Linked DNA regions of Homo sapiens: regions 1, 3, 4 and 5 are each reported to be linked to region 2. Evidence: microRNA targets listed by miRTarBase, many of them from high-throughput screens and not tested one by one. Region 2 holds a microRNA gene; each other region holds the end of a gene's coding sequence.

Region 1 (3,000 bases), not on the chromosome of region 2:
TACTCACTTTACCATTTATAAAGTACTAAGTGCACAATTCTGCATTTTAGTGTCTTTTTATATTCTGACTTAATTTCCTGATCTGTTAGTTTCTTACCTGTTTATTTGTATTTTAGTAAATGAAGCATTTGGAAGACGAGAGAGGCTTGTTCTTGGGAGTGCAAGAAATTCATCTATTAGTGGCCCTTTTGGCAGCAGGAGCTCAGATACACCCATGGAGTCTTAATGAAGATCATCTAATTTCCTGCTTACCTTAACTGGGAATTTTAAAAAGTTGGCCTAAAAATGTTCCATGCGTGGCAGCAACCATGCAGAGTGACTGAAACACAATTCATTTCTGACTGACATTCCTTTCTGCAACTGCGGTGGCACCACAAATATCCGGTCTTTGTGCTTGCTCTTCAGATGGATGGTTTGTAAGGCTCTTGTTGCATTTCTTAAAAAAGAGTAATAAAAAGGATTTTTAAAAAGTAATTCCTTAAACATACCATCTGTCACAGTTAATCTAGATTTGTAAATAGGTAGTAATTTATAGAATTTTTAAAGCGTAAAATCCGGTAATATTAAAAGATAGGTAAACCTAGGCCTGGAAAGGCTGTTATTTGGCTAAAATTGCACAGGAGGCCATGAACAGAGGCAAGTGCCCCAGAGACTCCACTTTCATTCCTAACTGTTCTCAAATTAATGCTCATGATTGAGTATTCTCAGTGCAACTCGTAGAGTTTGATAAGTAAAAGTTACATGCCCCTGTTTTCCTAGCATGATATTCACTGTTATCAAAGACAAGAGGCAGACCATTCATTCATTCTCAAAACACTGAATGCCATTCTGTGCCTAGTGCTATACAAGGCATGGGAGATTCAGTGTGAATAAGTCTTTGCTCTCCACCTAACAAGGGACAGTTTTAATTATAGATTGTCTTCCTATTAAGTATGAGTTTTAGTAGGCATTAAAAATCGTAATTAGTTTGATAATATGAGACCCAACCCTAACTTGCCAGAAGAGTAATCAGTTCATGAACCATTGATATTTCCTGTATATTTCATGAATGTGACTTCAGTCATTCTAGTGTTAATACTGTGGAATGTCATTGGTGTAGCAACGTGGGTTCACCAAAACACCTTTTTATACAAAAGACAGATGTGTGAATTAAAGAGATTAAAGGATAGAGTATTCTGTTTCTTTGTTTTGATTTGGCTTTTAGGTATTAAAATAAGGCCCAGATCACTAAAAATTAGTAACAGAGGGAGACCTCTAATAGATTTAAAGTCAGTTAATTCTCTCTGAAATTTGATGTTTTCTTCTATAAAGAATAACTCTAAAATAGGCATCTTCCCAGGACTTTCCATTCTCAGGAAAAGACCTAGTTACGTATAAAAAATAACTTCTACTGCTTTATGTAGTCATATAGGTCTGCCTAAAATAAGAATTTGTATTTAATAAATACCAAAATTTTCAAATGGTAAATGGGTTGACACCTCTGTTTCCAACTTGAAAGTGCTAGTGCGATGAATGCTAAGCATGGGGTGTTTTCTGAGCCAAAAGAATGTGCCTCTGAAGTAGCTGGTTAGAGCAGATCTGAGCACCTGGGACCAGAAGAGTGCTGGCCGGGACCTGCAGTTACTGCTAAAAGACAGTGCAGGCAGTGGGTAAGACATCTGAGTAGACAGGCAATAGGGGTAGTCAAGCTGTGGGAACTAGGTAAGATGGGGATTAAAATCCAAGCCCAGATTATAAATGTAAAAGGAGGCTCGATTGTGTCATACTGACTGAGGAAAGGGTTCCACATCACTTCCCACCGTGGGTACATTTTGCACCTAAGTGTGGGTAGATCTGAGCCCAAAGATGTGTGGCTTAGAATGCCTGTCTACCATAGAAAGTGGGGGAATGACAGGTAACATTTTCACCACTGGTAGTTTGTTGGTGACTGGTGTTTTCATTACATAGCACATGGAAATGCCATGGAGCCAAACATATTTGTCAAAGTGAAAACCCGATACTAACTTTTAAACAATTTTACCCAGATGGCTGGGCACGGTGGCTCAAGCCTGTAATCCCAGCACTTTGGGAGGCCAAGGTGGGCAGGTCACCCGAGGTCAGGAGTCCAAGACCAGCCTGGCCAACATGGTAAAACCCCGCCTCAACTAAAAATACAAAAATTAGCTGGGCATGGTGGTGGGTGCCTGTTAATCCCAGCTACTTGGGAGACTGACGCAGGAGGATCAGTTGAACCTGGGAGGCGGAGATTGCAGTGAGCCAAGACCATGCCATTGCACTCCAGCCTGGGCAACAGGAGTGAAACTCCGTCTCAAAAAATAATTACCCAGATGTAGGCAGGTGCCAGCTAATTATATCTGGGAATTCAGATTCTGCAAAACCCACTGTTTATAAAGTAGAAATATCAACTTCTATGATACTATATTCTATGAGCATTATACAGGTAGAACTTAAAGGCCTCAATTTTTCAGGACAACCCAAACTACATCTTATGAAGCTCTTTTCAGTAAAGGTGGTATATGAAATGTATGCTATACTCTTACATACTCTTTTAGGTGGAGGAGGTTTTTGTTTGTTTTTTGTTTTTGTTTTTTTAGACTGAGTGTTGAGTTGCCCAGGCTGGAGTGCAATGGCATGGTCTCGGCTCACTGCAACCTCCGCCTCCCGGGTTCGAATGATTCTCCTGTCTCAGCCTCCTGAGTAGCTGGGATTACAGGCATGTGCCACCATGCCCAGCTAATTTTTGTATTTTTAGTGGAGATGGGGCTTCACCATGTTGGCCAGGCTGGTCTCAAACTCCTGACCTCAGGTGATCGCCTGCCTCGCCTCCCAGAGTGCTGGGATTACAGGCATGAGCCACCGTGCCCAGCCAAGGGAGGTCTTTTCAAAGTAAGTACTTTTAAAACATCCTGTCAGAACAAATAGCCAGATTTTGTTTCAAAAACAACTTGTTTCATACTTCCATTTCTAGATGTGACAGTATAGCTTAAGCAAAAGCTGAAC
Region 2 (4,343 bases):
AAAGATTTAGTCATTATTGTTTCAGATTAAGTGATGATTTTGCATCTCTAGTAAGTCACATCCTGCTTCCAAAGTATACTTATTTTCTAAAACTATTAGCTTCTATTTCAAGGTTTAGTCAACCAAGAAACTTGGCAGATCATAAAATACTTTTTAATGCTTACTAATAATTGGCCACAAAAATAAATCAGAACGTGCATGGTGTAATTCTAATGCTGCATTGCTGAAACTGCTGTAGTGCTGGGCTATCTACTGCTACATTCTGATTTGCTCTCTATAAGCTGCACTAGCTTTTTATCACAAGCTGCAGAAATTCTACTATCCCTGCCCTTTTTTTTCCTCCTTTGACAAATCTGAAAATTTCTTGAGGTTTTAAATTAACCTTCTAATACCACAATAACTGAAGGCTACTTACCAACTATAATTTCTTTTCATTCTAAACTATCAAGGTAAATAAAACCCAGGTGCTCACAGACTAAAACCTTTCAGTTCTTTGAAGTGATACTTTCTAAAAGTTGACGATTCTGACAGTTATCCTTTATACTAAAAAGATTAAAGAATCAAAACAACTTAAACTCACCAAAATTAGATATTTCTACATCTATTTGAATTTGTATTCAACTCATATTTGTATTTAACCCAAAGAGAAGCATCAAAGTGCAAACTTCAGGTAAGGAACTAATAAAGAAAAAAGAATGACAAATTTTCAAATGATCACGAGTTCTTATCTGTGACCTTATAAAACACTAACAAAAATTCATAATCTTTAAAAAAGTTCAATTCACCCACACTCATCCTGGTTTTTCTCCTTGTTGTTTCAACTTCTAGAGTCAATATCAGAAATACTTATTGGTTAATTTGTTAGGTTTTGAGTAAGATATCTAGTTTGTAAAAAAAAAATTGAATTTAATTAATTACTATCTACCTGTAGGATCTAGAAGCAGACTACAAAAAAAGAAGAAATTCACTCTGAAGACTGAAGAAACACTAGGCTGATCTTAAGTTTCCGAAATACACTCTGTAACACTACACTGATTCTTTGAATCTCTTGCAAAAAGAATCAAACCAGGACAAAGTTCAACAGATAACTGGTCAAATGCTTAGGAATGTCTATGTCCACCAAGAATATGGAACCATTAATGCCATGCTTCAGGTAAACTTGTTACAAAATTTAGTCTTCGATAAATTAGTCTCTGCAAATGATTTACCATTGCTCTACATTAGTAAGCTGAATGTTTCACTAACAAATAAGAAAATAAAATATTTCATGTTTTTACAGCTAACAACTTAGTAATACCTACTCAGAGTACATACTTCTTTATGTACCCATATGAACATACAATGCTATGGAATGTAAAGAAGTATGTATTTTTGGTAGGCAATAAACCACCAAGGGAGAATTAAACTGAGCTAAAAGAAGCTCTTGCTTCTTTCTACGTGAATGACCGTCATATGGTAAATTAACCTAGTCATGAACAGATGACCTTTGGCAATACTAACACCAAAAAAAAAAGGTTATCTACTACTGATAGATAGAAACTATCCCTAAGGTTTTTATTTCATGAAGGAAAAGAAGATCCAGTGAAGTAGATTTCAATTATCATGAAACTCCTTTTAAATCATCTAAGTTTAAAACAGACATCTTACATTTTTAAATTAGGCACTCTCATTATTAAAATTTGACTGCAAAAGGGAAAATAGTATTACTAGCACAAAAGAATGAGGAATACACATGACCTATTTTCTGTCTCCACAATTTAATCTTAAGTATATCTCATTAGTAGGGCTCACTGATTTGTACAGAAAAATAAGATACTAAGAGCTGGCTTCATTCACATAATAAGCTATTTCTTCTCATTTTGATAAATGTATAATTAATATTAGAGGAATTTCTGACCAAAAGTTTTGTTGTTTTAAAAAGGCTTTCTTTTTTGACAGCTACAAACATAGTGGCCCTTGTCCTTCCTTCTCAAGTTTATCAGGGTCTTAACCCAAATCTCTACTTTAAATGTGAAGTTAAAACTTAAAATTAATTAAAATGTAAGATTTAAGCATGAAAAATGACAAAATTCTGGTCCACAGCTGTAAGTCAGCAGGGTATATTGGTAACAGACTACCAAATATTTAAAAGAAATTAATTTATCTGTATTATCTTCGAATTTGCTTTCTCCAAAGAGGGCATGTAAAATGAAAGCACTATAGTCAAGAACCAATTTATACAGATCGAAGAACTGTTTTTATTGTACTATGCAATTACAATTCAATTTCTCTAAACTTGATCAATCCATTGTTTAGAAATATCAAAATACTTTTATTTCACACAGTTTGTATATTATTTATAAAAAATTCCAAATAATGCTCTTAGCAAAATTTATAAGCAGTACCTGTTTTAAGCTACTAATGACAAAGTTAGAAAATAAGAGTAATATTCACATATTCTAACCATTTCTTACTAAAAGTATTATTTCAACTGAAATATTTACACATGTATAAAAGCATAATATTTTAAATTTTTTGTATCAGAAATTGAATGGAAATGACTAAGTTTAACTATAGTTCATTTTCTGTTTAATAAGACTAGTTAATACAAAGATGATTTTCATTTTATCAGATTATAAAGAATGAGAATGACTTACACATGGCATCATATGTGTTACTGCATGTTTACTGGAAATTATAAAAGGCACATAATTTTAAAATTCTACACTTTCAAAGAAATTAGTTCAAAGCTTAACTCACATAAGCATAGCCCTTCTGATCATCCACAAAACAGAATGGCAATGATTCATGTTCTATTTGGTAAGTTTACCTGTATAGGTCCTAAATACCAAGAACTCAAAATATATACCTCAAAAGTAGAGGTTCTTCTATAAAAATACTCAAAGCTTATTACTCTACTTGTGTTTTATAATAAACAGTTATATTGGTCATTCTATAGGTATACAAGTTGTTTAATAATCCTTCTCAAACATCCTAGCAACTAAGACTCTCTTTGCTATAATATTAAGACTATATAAATAATCCTTAGAAAATAAAATGACAGGCTATTCATTTTTAAAAGTAAAATTATATGCTGATTCTGGTGCTTGCGAGTTTAACTTATCTAAGAGTATTTTCAATCACTCTAAAATGTCACATCTATCACTTAGATCAGCTGTTCATTTTTAACTGAGTACATATTAAACTCTGGGCATCTGCTGACACTGGTATAACTCAAACATTTCAACTGTCTCCCTGACAGGGATAACAGATGCTGACATTATCAAATGCTGTACTATTTTTTTCCCATGGCCTCTCCTTGCCCCGATATGGCCAGTATATGAAACTGAACTGCCATCCAAAAACACACTTGAGCAACTGGATCTGCTAAACAGCTCCCATATAACTAGTAAAAATAGAAGCCAGTATTATTGCTATCTTCAGCACTTAAGTTTAGGCAGTTTAACACCTGTTTCACTTCTACTAGAAAAAATGATGAAAAAGAATTGTAGTTAATTTCACCAGCAGTATGATACTTACCAACCAACAGACGCAGAATATACTTAGTGTAAGAGTCATTTGCATACTGCCTGAATTAGCGTTGACCTCTCAGTTTAAAATAGTAACTGTAAAGAATATTTCTCTACTCTATATTTCTCTGAGAGCACTTAACTTTATAGGCAAATTATAATTTATCAAACTTTTATTTTATGCAAGAAGACACCCCTCTCAAGACATTGAAATCAACAGTAAAACCACATTATAACAAAAATTTACTCTGATTTTTCAAGTATTATCCACACAATAGATTTTAATACTTGTATCCATGGATTGTAACTAACCACCATGTATTACTAAGGCGATAATGAGAAGTAACTTGGCAATCTGTACCCAAAATGACAAAGAACTTAGTCAAGGAAATAGACCTTTAAAAGGGTTAAATTACTAAGCTATGATTAGTAACACCACGTAAGCAAAAACAAAGAAAAACTGGCATGCATGGTAGTTCCTTTCGACACAAGTCCAAGCAATACACTGAATACACATGTGATCTATTTATAAATCAAAGGGCAGAGGTACTTTCTTAAGGCCACTGATATTCCTACACCCATCAACAATTTGCTATTAGCCCTCAACTATAATGCTAAAAGAAGCAGTGGCAGTAGAAGGGGGTGACTAACTGAACTCTTCCCCAACCTTTTAGCTTAACTATTTATCTGGTTTGCTGCCTAGAGATAAATGGAAAACATTACTCTAAAATACATCAAGGTCTATTTGTTCCTTTAAATACTATTGGTTTTGAAATAGCTTATTGTCTACATGTAAGAATTAAGCAAAGACTTCGGCTGTGGACAAGATTAGAA
Region 3 (3,000 bases), not on the chromosome of region 2:
CTATGTGTCAGACATTGTTCGAATACAATCCCCAATGCACTGTCAAATGTAGGACACTGCACATGGGCTCCAGTGAAGTTTTGTGAATAAATAGATTTTTTTCTCTGTAAAGAGATTTTGGTCTCCATGTAAAACAGATTGCCTAATTTTATTCTTCTTTTTAGTATTTCTTACAGGAACTGACAGACTACAAATGAAAGATTTAAATAATATGAAAATAACATTTTGCTGTCCTGAAAGTTGGAATGAAAGAGACCCTATAAGAGCACTGACATGTTTCAGTGTCCTCTTCCTCCCTAAATATTCTACAATGGAAACAGTTGAAGAAGCGCTTCAAGAAGCCATCAACAACAACAGAGGATTTGGCTGACCAGCTTGCTTGTCCAACAGCCTTATTTTGTTGTTGTTATCGTTGTTGTTGTTGTTGTTGTTGTTGTTTCTCTACTTTGTTTTGTTTTAGGCTTTTAGCAGCCTGAAGCCATGGTTTTTCATTTCTGTCTCTAGTGATAAGCAGGAAAGAGGGATGAAGAAGAGGGTTTACTGGCCGGTTAGAACCCGTGACTGTATTCTCTCCCTTGGATACCCCTATGCCTACATCATATTCCTTACCTCTTTTGGGAAATATTTTTCAAAAATAAAATAACCGAAAAATTAACATAAAAGTCTTATTCACTATTCAATGTGTTTACCAGCTCTTTTGGAATTGCTATCATTGCATGTAAGATATATCAATTATAATATAGATTAAGCTGTGTCTCTCACACAATGTTTGCATGACTTGGCCTGAAGGGATACTCTTTACCTTAGAAGTTTTTTTAAAAAACTTGTAATTATCTACCCAATATCTGTTCTCCCCTTCTTTCAGTACAGATTCCCTATATGGTAGGAGTGGCATTGTTCTCAGTCTTAAAATCATACATTTCCCAGCCTCTCTTCAAGGTAGGGACAGGTGGCAGTGGTGACAGTTATTGGGAGAAGCTTCTGAGGAAGCTTTTTTATTTAAATGCTGTTATGCTTTTAATGGAGTTAGGTACAAAATGCATCCAAGCAAAAGAATGTTGTACATACTCATTAACATAGTGATAAATGTAAATTACACTTTGATAATGTAAAATACAGTGTGTTAGGCCCCAAAAAGAAACTACAAAGTTAGCTGCAACTGAAGATACTGGAAAGACTCCGTAGGTTTTTTTTTTTCTTTTTTCTTTTTTTTGAGACAGTTTCACTCTTGTTGCCCAGGCTGGAGTGCAATGGCGCTGTCTCGGCTCATCGCAACCTCCACCTCCTGGGTTCAAGTGACTCTCCTACCTCAGCCTCCCAAGTAGCTGGGATTACAGGCATGCACCCCCACGCCCAGCTAATTTTGTATTTTTAGTAGAGACAGAGTTTCTCCATGTTGGTCAGGCTGGTCTCAAACTTCCCACCTCAGGTCATGCGCCGGCCTTAGCCTCCCAAAGTGCTGGGCTTACAGGCGTGAGCCACTGTGTCCAGCCGTCCTTAAGTTTTTTTTACCCGTCATCTTTATTATTATAATAGTTCTAAATGATAATCTGGGTGGGGCTTAAGGAATAATACAAAGCTCTTTTCAGCTGTGGTTCAAAGAACTTTAGTAAAGCTGTATGACAATGACATTGTGGGACCATGACATTTTCCCAAAAGTATTTCCAATAACATAGGCATTTGAGAAACTTCATAGTTTCAAAGTCTGGAAAGCGGTGAAGATATCTTAGAGAATTTTAAAACATTATAAACCCCATTTCTCTCCTGGAGACTTTTTAAAGCATGGACATGAGTTTAAAGATACTGAGAAAACATCGGTTTTCATAAAGCTTCAATGAACACCCCAAGGTACAAGTGTTGTAAGCAGCCTGTTTACTAAAATGTTGCTGCATTGTACTTTTGGAGGTACAGAAATGCTGTGCCTACAGTGAGAGCACAACTTTATCCCTAGTTAAAAGCACCAGGGGTCAAGTTCAGCTTCCATTTACAGAGGATACACCAGTAATCCCTAGGATAGTGAGTGGTTCAAGTACTACACTACATTTCTAACGTGTCTTACCTATTTGCTCTTAGTCAGCACTGGGGCTCTTTTAAACCCTATGTAGATCTATAGAATATTTTGAAAAGAGTCTAAAACTACCTTGAAAATGGTCTTAATACAGAGCCCTTCTAAAAGAGGGATACTTTTAGAAGGATACTAAATACTGGATACTCTAATAACATTTAAAGCAGGGATGTCCAATCTTTTGGCTTCCCTGGGCCACATGGGAAGAAGAAGAATTGTCTTGGGCCACACATAAAATACACTAATAATAGTTGATGAGCTAAAAAAAAAAATCTCATAATGTTTTAAGAAAATTTACAAATTTGTGTTGGGCTACATTCAAAGCCATCCTGGGGCCTGTGGGCCATGGGTTGGACAAGTTTGATTTAGAAAAAGGAATAAAGAAAAACATTGCAGTAGCTCAGTTTCTTTCAAGTGAAGAAGAAAAATGATGTAAAACTAATATGTAGGCTAAAATGTTTGGTAATTAGTGTCAAAAATTACCAAGATTATTAGTACATGTTTTGGTAATCACTAATGGCAGGATTAATTTTTTGTGCAAAATATATATTAATAGAAGAGAAAAATTATTTCAGCCTCTAATAGAAGAAAACAGCAAGAGAAGCAGCTAAAGAACAATTAAAAGTTAGGGAAGTTTACTAGCTTTAGAATACAATACACTTCAATTACAGAAATACTTCTTTTTAAAACTACAGTGTTTTAATGTACTTTTAGTAATAACCCAATCTAAGGAGTGTGGGAGGCTTGTGAAAAACTCCACCAAGGTGCTACATTTCTAGTGTGGGGTGAATTAATACTTCTGTAAAAAGGAAAGAACTGAGTCACCTCAGCATTTTTTGTTTAAATAGTAACTCATAATCCGATGATGTATTTTTCTTCACTAGTTCAAATTTAGGCAGGAAAGGGACTAAGCTAACTGGTCGGACCCAGAAACA
Region 4 (3,000 bases), not on the chromosome of region 2:
TGCCAGACACAATCTGGTTAATCTACACTCTTCATGTTTCAGCTTAGATATCGACCTTTGATGGTATATAGTAAAACTCAAATATGTGATGATTAATATTGAGTGCCAACTTGATTGGATTGAAGGATGCAAAGTATTGTTCCCGAGTGTGACTGTGAGGGTGTTGCCAAAGGAGATTAACATTTGAGTCAGTGGACTGGGAAAGGCAGACCGACCCTCAATCTGGGTGGACACAATCTAATCAGCTGCCAGTGTGGCCAAAATAAAAGGCAGGAGAAATTGGAACGACTAGACTGGCTTAGTCTTCCAGCCTACTACTTCGTCCAGTTCCGGATGCTTCCTACCCTTGAACATCAGACTCCGAGTTCAGCTTTGGGACTCTTGGACCTTCAACCACAGACTGAAGGCTGCGCTGTCAGCTTCCCTACTTTTGAGGTTTTGGGACTTGGACTCTTATGTAAAATTGGGACTTGGCTTCCTTGCTCCTCAGCTTGCAGGCAGCCTATTGTGGGACCTCACTTTGTGACAGTGTAAATCAATACTCCTTAATAAACTCCCCTTTATATATACATTTATCCTATTGGTTCTGTCCCTCTAGAGAACGCTAATACAATGTACTAAATAAACAGGCTTGTGAAACAAGGCTGCGAGAAGATGTTAATTGGCTATAAATGCTCTGCAAGAGCTTTAAATGCACTCCAAAAATTATTATTTGAAACTATGTTATGTTAAACTTAGTGAACATAGTAAACACTTTTTTAAGAAAGCTTGGAGATTTAGGAGAAAAAAATAAGTATTTTACTTAGGCTCAAATAGCTAGTTGTTCAAAGAAAAGATAAAGAGTGAAAATAGTACTTCTATCTTTCAACCATCCAAAAGAAAATCACAGCTTATTTTCAAAAATTGAAATATTGGACTTGGAATACCTAAATTTAAAAAGTCAGAATCCATTGTATTTAATGTAAGTACTATGATGAATGAACATACCTCAAGAATTTTTTACATTCAGAGTGCTTTTCTCTTGTTAGGCTTCTCTACAAGTTATCTCTTGTTTATACGAATTTCTATATCAATTACTTATGTAGGGCTTTGTCCTAATAAAACTTGTGTTGCAATATAAAGGATGAACAAACATAGATTTTGACATTATTTAATCATAGGAGTTCACTCCAGTATACCTTTTCTGCCTTTGAATAAGGTATGAACCTTCACAAAAAGCTACCATCATCATTAATTGGGAATGTCTCCAGTGTGAATTTTTTGGGGCAGATTAAGTCATACTTCTTGGCTCAAGAACCAGATGGGATCCTGAGGTAGTTTACAGAAGACACAGTTCTGGTGTACAGAGTATAGGAGACTTTAATAACTTCATAATGTCTGGTATAAATGATATACCTAAGGCTATGGACGTCTCTCCAGCCTAAATTCCCAAAGGTACAGTAAGTCTGCACTGAACATCATCAATAGGTTCTTAGGAACTGCAACTTTAAGTGAAATGATGTATAACAAAACCAATTTTACCATAGACTAATGGATACAAACAAGAGTTAAGTTCCTAAGGCAAATGTCTGGTCACAACATCATCAAACTTCTAAAGACCCCAAACGCTTCCAATATCAGACATTAAAATAAATCTGAGCTATATACACATTTAAGACGGATTAATAAAAACAGATAAGATAATTATTTACCCTGTTATTCCAGTACAGGGCCATGGGTGGACAGAGCGCATCCTAGCAGCTCAGGGCAATGGTGGGAACAAACCCTGATTAGGAGCCATTCCACTGCAGGGCACACTTCCTCACAAACTCAGACTGAGATAATTTAGATATGTCAATTAACCTAATGTATACATCTTTGGGGTTTGAAACTGGAGCACCCGGAGACATAGGGAGAGTGTGCGAACTCCACACAGTGTCCCTGGCTGGGAATCGATATTTTTCTCATCAACATCATAACAATTATAACATTATAACAAAACAAAAACATTTTTCAAGGACCTGCTATAAACAAATGCAGATTTTAAGAATACATATAGATTAACAGCAATACATACTTCTCCCATTGCAGTTGATAACCCTTTCCCAACTCTAGTCTCCATTCAACAGCAAGACAACAAAGGGTATTGTCAGGAGTGGAGTAAATGGCTGTTACTGTTGTCTTAGCCATTGATTCAGAGATTTCTGTCCTTAGAAGTATTCTCTTATATTCGCATGAGCTAATGATTTCTTGTGACCTTCTTAAAAGGGCTGAGTTTTATTAAATATCAACTCCAAGAGTATTGTTTGGCTTTGCCTAATGTCTACTTCGTCAATAAATCAGGTGGATATTAGTATGCTATAGACCTATTTATGAACTAGGGAGAGGTGAGGGTAATGGATATCAAAATAATGATAAACAAATACTTGTATGGTGATACTGTGGTTTAACTCCAAAGCCTTATGGCTTCATCTGAAAACCAGGAAAATTCCTTCAAACAGATTTCTATCCAATGATATTTCTATCCAACATTAATTCTGTGATATCATTTAAAGAAAAATCTGACAAATGTTTTCTTACATTATATTCATGAGATTTTATCCAGCATAAATTCATGATGTTAAATGAGTTCTGCATTCTGACTGAAGGTAATCTTTCATTTTTTCTTTTTTCAGGACTTATCTCGAGTATGCAGTTTTTGATGTTTAACAAGGTTTGAACTCCTGTTGAAGGCTTTACTACATTCCTTACATTTGAATGGTTTCTCTCCCGTGTGAATCATTTGGTGTCGAATAAGAGAGGAGCTCCGGTTGAAGGATTTTCCACAGTTAACACATTGATAGAAATTGTTTCCAAAATGGAGTGTTGGATTATTACTGTCTTCACTTTTACTGAAGGCCTTTCCACATTTATTGCTTGTGCAGGCCTTTGCTTCAGCATGAAGTTTTTGATGCTTAGTAAGGTTTGTACGTCGGTTGAAGAATCTCCCACATTCACTGCATTTATAGGGTTTCTCTCCTG
Region 5 (3,000 bases), not on the chromosome of region 2:
ACTCGTATTTAAGCTTTTACTTGTGAGTGATTTGTCACTGTTAGAAATATGTTATCATTAGTCATCTATAGTACTTTTTTATTCAACTGAAGAATGTAATCCATACATTAACTAGGGCAAGTAATGAAAAGCAGCCACTTTTTTTTTATCTGAGGAAAGGTCTTAAGGCTGTTGTTAAGAGCAAAGCAAAAGCATCTCTGACTTTTTAAGACAAGCCATATGTTTCAGCTTATAACAATATGGGCTGGTAGTCTGCAGATTCATGTTCCAGAAGTTCTCAATTATCCCGAGAAGATTCATGCTGGGGGGTACATTATGAACGCTTTTGCAATATGAATATATAGGTTTGTAAACATTATTTCTTCTACGTAATTTTAAGGAGCAGATTCTGGCCAGATTTCTGAAGAAACATGGAATTTTCTGCAGTCTATTTATGGTGGAGGGCCTGAAGTTATCCTGCGACCTCCGGTTGTTCATGTTGATCCAGATATACTTCAAGCAGAAGAAAAAATTGAAGTAGAAACTCGGTCTTTGTAATTTTTAGGATGTAGAGAGTTCTAATGAGGAATCATTTTCATGTGCCCTGACATGTACACATGCGAAAACATTCCTAAAAGCGTGTTTATTTGCTTTATTTTTTTTCATCATTTATCCCATTTATTTCTTCTTAGTGGGCATTATGGAAGAATATATTAAAATGTGTAATATACCACAGGTTGGTATATTTAGTTTTAAATACTTACCATAAAGTCTTTCAGTGTAATTTTTTTTTGAGACAGAGTCTTGCTTTGTCACCCAGGCTGGAGTGCTGTGGTGTTACCTCAGCTCACTGCAGCCTCCACCTCCTGGGTTCAAGCGATTCTCCTGCCTCAGCCTCTCGAGTAGCTGGGATTACAGGCACCTGCCACCATGCCCGGCTAATTTTTGTATTTTAGTAGAGATGGGGTTTCACCATGTTGGCCAGGCTAGTCTCAAACTCCTGACCTCAGGTGATCCACCCACCTCGGCCTCCCAAAGTGCTGGGATTACAGGTGTGAGCCACAGCGCCTGGCCCAGTGTAATATTTTTGAAAGAGGAGGGACAATTGTGAAATCAGTAGGTTATCTTTAATCTTTACACTACATGCAGATCCATAGTATCCTTTGTAGTGTTGTAAATACTTTTGCTTTGAAAACTTTTTCATTGTCCTAAATCACCCTGACTCTGACCAGTCTTTCAGTTCTCCAAAAGCCCAATTTAATTGTATAGTTTTGTCATGGCTTCATATAATAAAGAGCCTATTTTAAGTTGAAAGTAGTAGTCAGAAAATTGTTAATTTCCTAAAGCTCAGGAAACTAGGGTGTCACTTTTTTTGCACTGCAGCATATACACTAACTAGCTTATTAAAATTTACAAAATGTCTTTTTGAATGTATCAAGGATATATTTAGTTTGAGTGGAATTTGTCAGCAGATATCAGTAACTTATTGCCGCTTATATTGTACAATGTTAAACTTCAATTCCTGTAACCTGGTTAGTATTAATGTCAGTGACTAAAAAACTTAGAGTTAGTTTTAGGGCACTTTTTATTTTGAGAGCATGAAGTGTGGAATGTGTCACTACGATTGTTGATAAAGCTGAGGCCACTTGCAACTTGATTTTTTAAATGAAATAGATAAAGTCTTTTTGAATAATATAGTATGCACTGCTATTTGCTTGATTATGTAATGTCAAAAGTTTAACTATATTCCAAGTACAAAAACATACTGGATTACATTGAGGATGTTGAATAGCATTCATGATGGCTTTGTTTTGGTTTGGGGCAGCTGTCACCAGCTAAAGCAATGTTGTTAAAATTAGCTCAATAAAAATGTCTTTAAAATGTAAAACTTGAATGTTGAATTTATTTGATAGATGTTAAAGGTAAAAGGTGCAAAGTTTGTTAATATTAATACCTTCTTGCTGTTCCTATTTTATTTTATTTATCTATTCTTTTGAGACAGAGTCTCACCCTTTCCCAGGCTGGAATGCAGTGTCACAGTCTTGGCTCACTGCAACCTCCGCCTCCCAGGTTCAAGTGATTCTCCTGCCTCAGCCTCCCAAGTAGCTGGGATTACAGGTATGAGCCACCACACCCAGCTAATTTTTGTATTTTTAGTAGAGATGGGGTTTCACCATGTTGGCTGGGCTAGTTTCAAACTCCTGACCTCAGGTGATCCACCTGCCTTGGCTTCCGAAAATGTTGAGATTACAGGTGTGAGCCACTGTGCCCAGCCAGTTTATTTTAAAATTTTTATTTATTTTGAGACTGGGTTATGAGACTGGCTAATTTTTATCTCTTTTTTTGGTAGAGATGGGGTTTTGCTATTTTGCTCAGGCTGGTTTCAAACTCCTGGGCTGAAGTGATCCAGCCACCTCGGCCTCCCAAAAAGCTGGGGTTATAGGTGTGAATCACTGCACCCGGCCTCTTGTTATTTCTTAATCAGAAGTATGCAAACAAGTCATTCAGTCTAGTAAAGTTGGTTTTTATTTATTATTTTATTTTTTTTTTAGACAGGGTCTCTCGAGCTCTGTCACCCAGACTGGAGTGCCTGGCGTTGAATACAGCTCACTGCAGTCTCCATCTCCTGGGATCAAGCGATCCTCCCACCTCAGCCTCCTGAGTACCTGAGACCACAGGTGTGCACCACCACACCTGGATAATTTGTTTTATTTTTTGTAAAGTCTGACTTTATTGCTTGGGCTGGTAATCAGTGTAGTAAAATTTTGATGTTTAATGAAATGAATTTTAATAAGCAGCCATTTAAGATCTATTTGAAGTTTTAAAAAATATATAGTAAAATATGATTCTACTATAGTAAAATATGATCTTCCTCAAGGTCTGAATGTTACTGATTTTTTGTGAATCACCAGAATTTAGTGTATTGTCTAGTATTTAGTGGTTAGTCAAAAAAGATTTGATTTTAATGATTGTTATTTATTGAAACTTAGAATGTTTCAGTCATTTTACTAAAGTTATTTC

The links. The annotated mature microRNA hsa-miR-1-3p reads UGGAAUGUAAAGAAGUAUGUAU and lies in region 2 at 1,348-1,369, shown strand. An mRNA with a match to its seed (bases 2 to 7 or 8) in the 3' UTR can be bound and repressed. Matches are read on the target gene's strand: a 7mer-m8 pairs with bases 2 to 8, a 7mer-A1 pairs with bases 2 to 7 and ends in A, and an 8mer does both.
Region 1: the mRNA of PWP1 is a reported target of hsa-miR-1-3p. Seed matches in the 3' UTR shown: 7mer-m8 at 345-351.
Region 3: the mRNA of HERC5 is a reported target of hsa-miR-1-3p. The part of its 3' UTR that is shown has no 7-base or 8-base seed match.
Region 4: the mRNA of ZNF215 is a reported target of hsa-miR-1-3p. Seed matches in the 3' UTR shown: 7mer-m8 at 1,238-1,244.
Region 5: the mRNA of USP33 is a reported target of hsa-miR-1-3p. Seed matches in the 3' UTR shown: 7mer-m8 at 605-611.

Annotation. Positions count from the first base shown.
Region 1 is chr12:107,711,995-107,714,994 of GRCh38, forward strand. PWP1 (PWP1 homolog, endonuclein) reads left to right here. Exons shown (of 15, transcript NM_007062.3): 15 at 117-1,168. The coding sequence ends at 226. It overlaps LOC124903010 (a long non-coding RNA gene), which reads right to left. Exons shown (of 2, transcript XR_007063446.1): 2 at 388-436. Among named protein-coding and RNA genes, the nearest start is that of PRDM4-AS1, 23 kb to the right of the region's middle.
Region 2 is chr18:21,826,041-21,830,383 of GRCh38, reverse strand. It overlaps MIR1-2 (microRNA 1-2), which reads left to right and starts at 1,296; the gene lies at 1,296-1,380. The region is part of intron 12 of MIB1 (MIB E3 ubiquitin protein ligase 1); the gene reads right to left. MIR133A1HG (MIR133A1 host gene) reads left to right here. Exons shown (of 3, transcript NR_110369.1): 3 at 932-4,343.
Region 3 is chr4:88,505,509-88,508,508 of GRCh38, forward strand. It overlaps HERC5 (HECT and RLD domain containing E3 ubiquitin protein ligase 5), which reads left to right. Exons shown (of 23, transcript NM_016323.4): 23 at 165-655. The coding sequence ends at 370. It also overlaps the pseudogene NCOA4P2. Among named protein-coding and RNA genes, the nearest start is that of PIGY, 17 kb to the right of the region's middle.
Region 4 is chr11:6,956,182-6,959,181 of GRCh38, reverse strand. ZNF215 (zinc finger protein 215) reads right to left here. Exons shown (of 7, transcript NM_013250.4): 7 at 1,135-3,000. The coding sequence ends at 2,651. It overlaps LOC102724711 (a long non-coding RNA gene), which reads left to right. Exons shown (of 3, transcript XR_002957236.2): 2 at 2,655-2,941. Among named protein-coding and RNA genes, the nearest start is that of ZNF215, 31 kb to the right of the region's middle.
Region 5 is chr1:77,694,854-77,697,853 of GRCh38, reverse strand. USP33 (ubiquitin specific peptidase 33) reads left to right here. Exons shown (of 24, transcript NM_201624.3): 24 at 380-1,867. The coding sequence ends at 537. Among named protein-coding and RNA genes, the nearest start is that of ZZZ3, 14 kb to the right of the region's middle.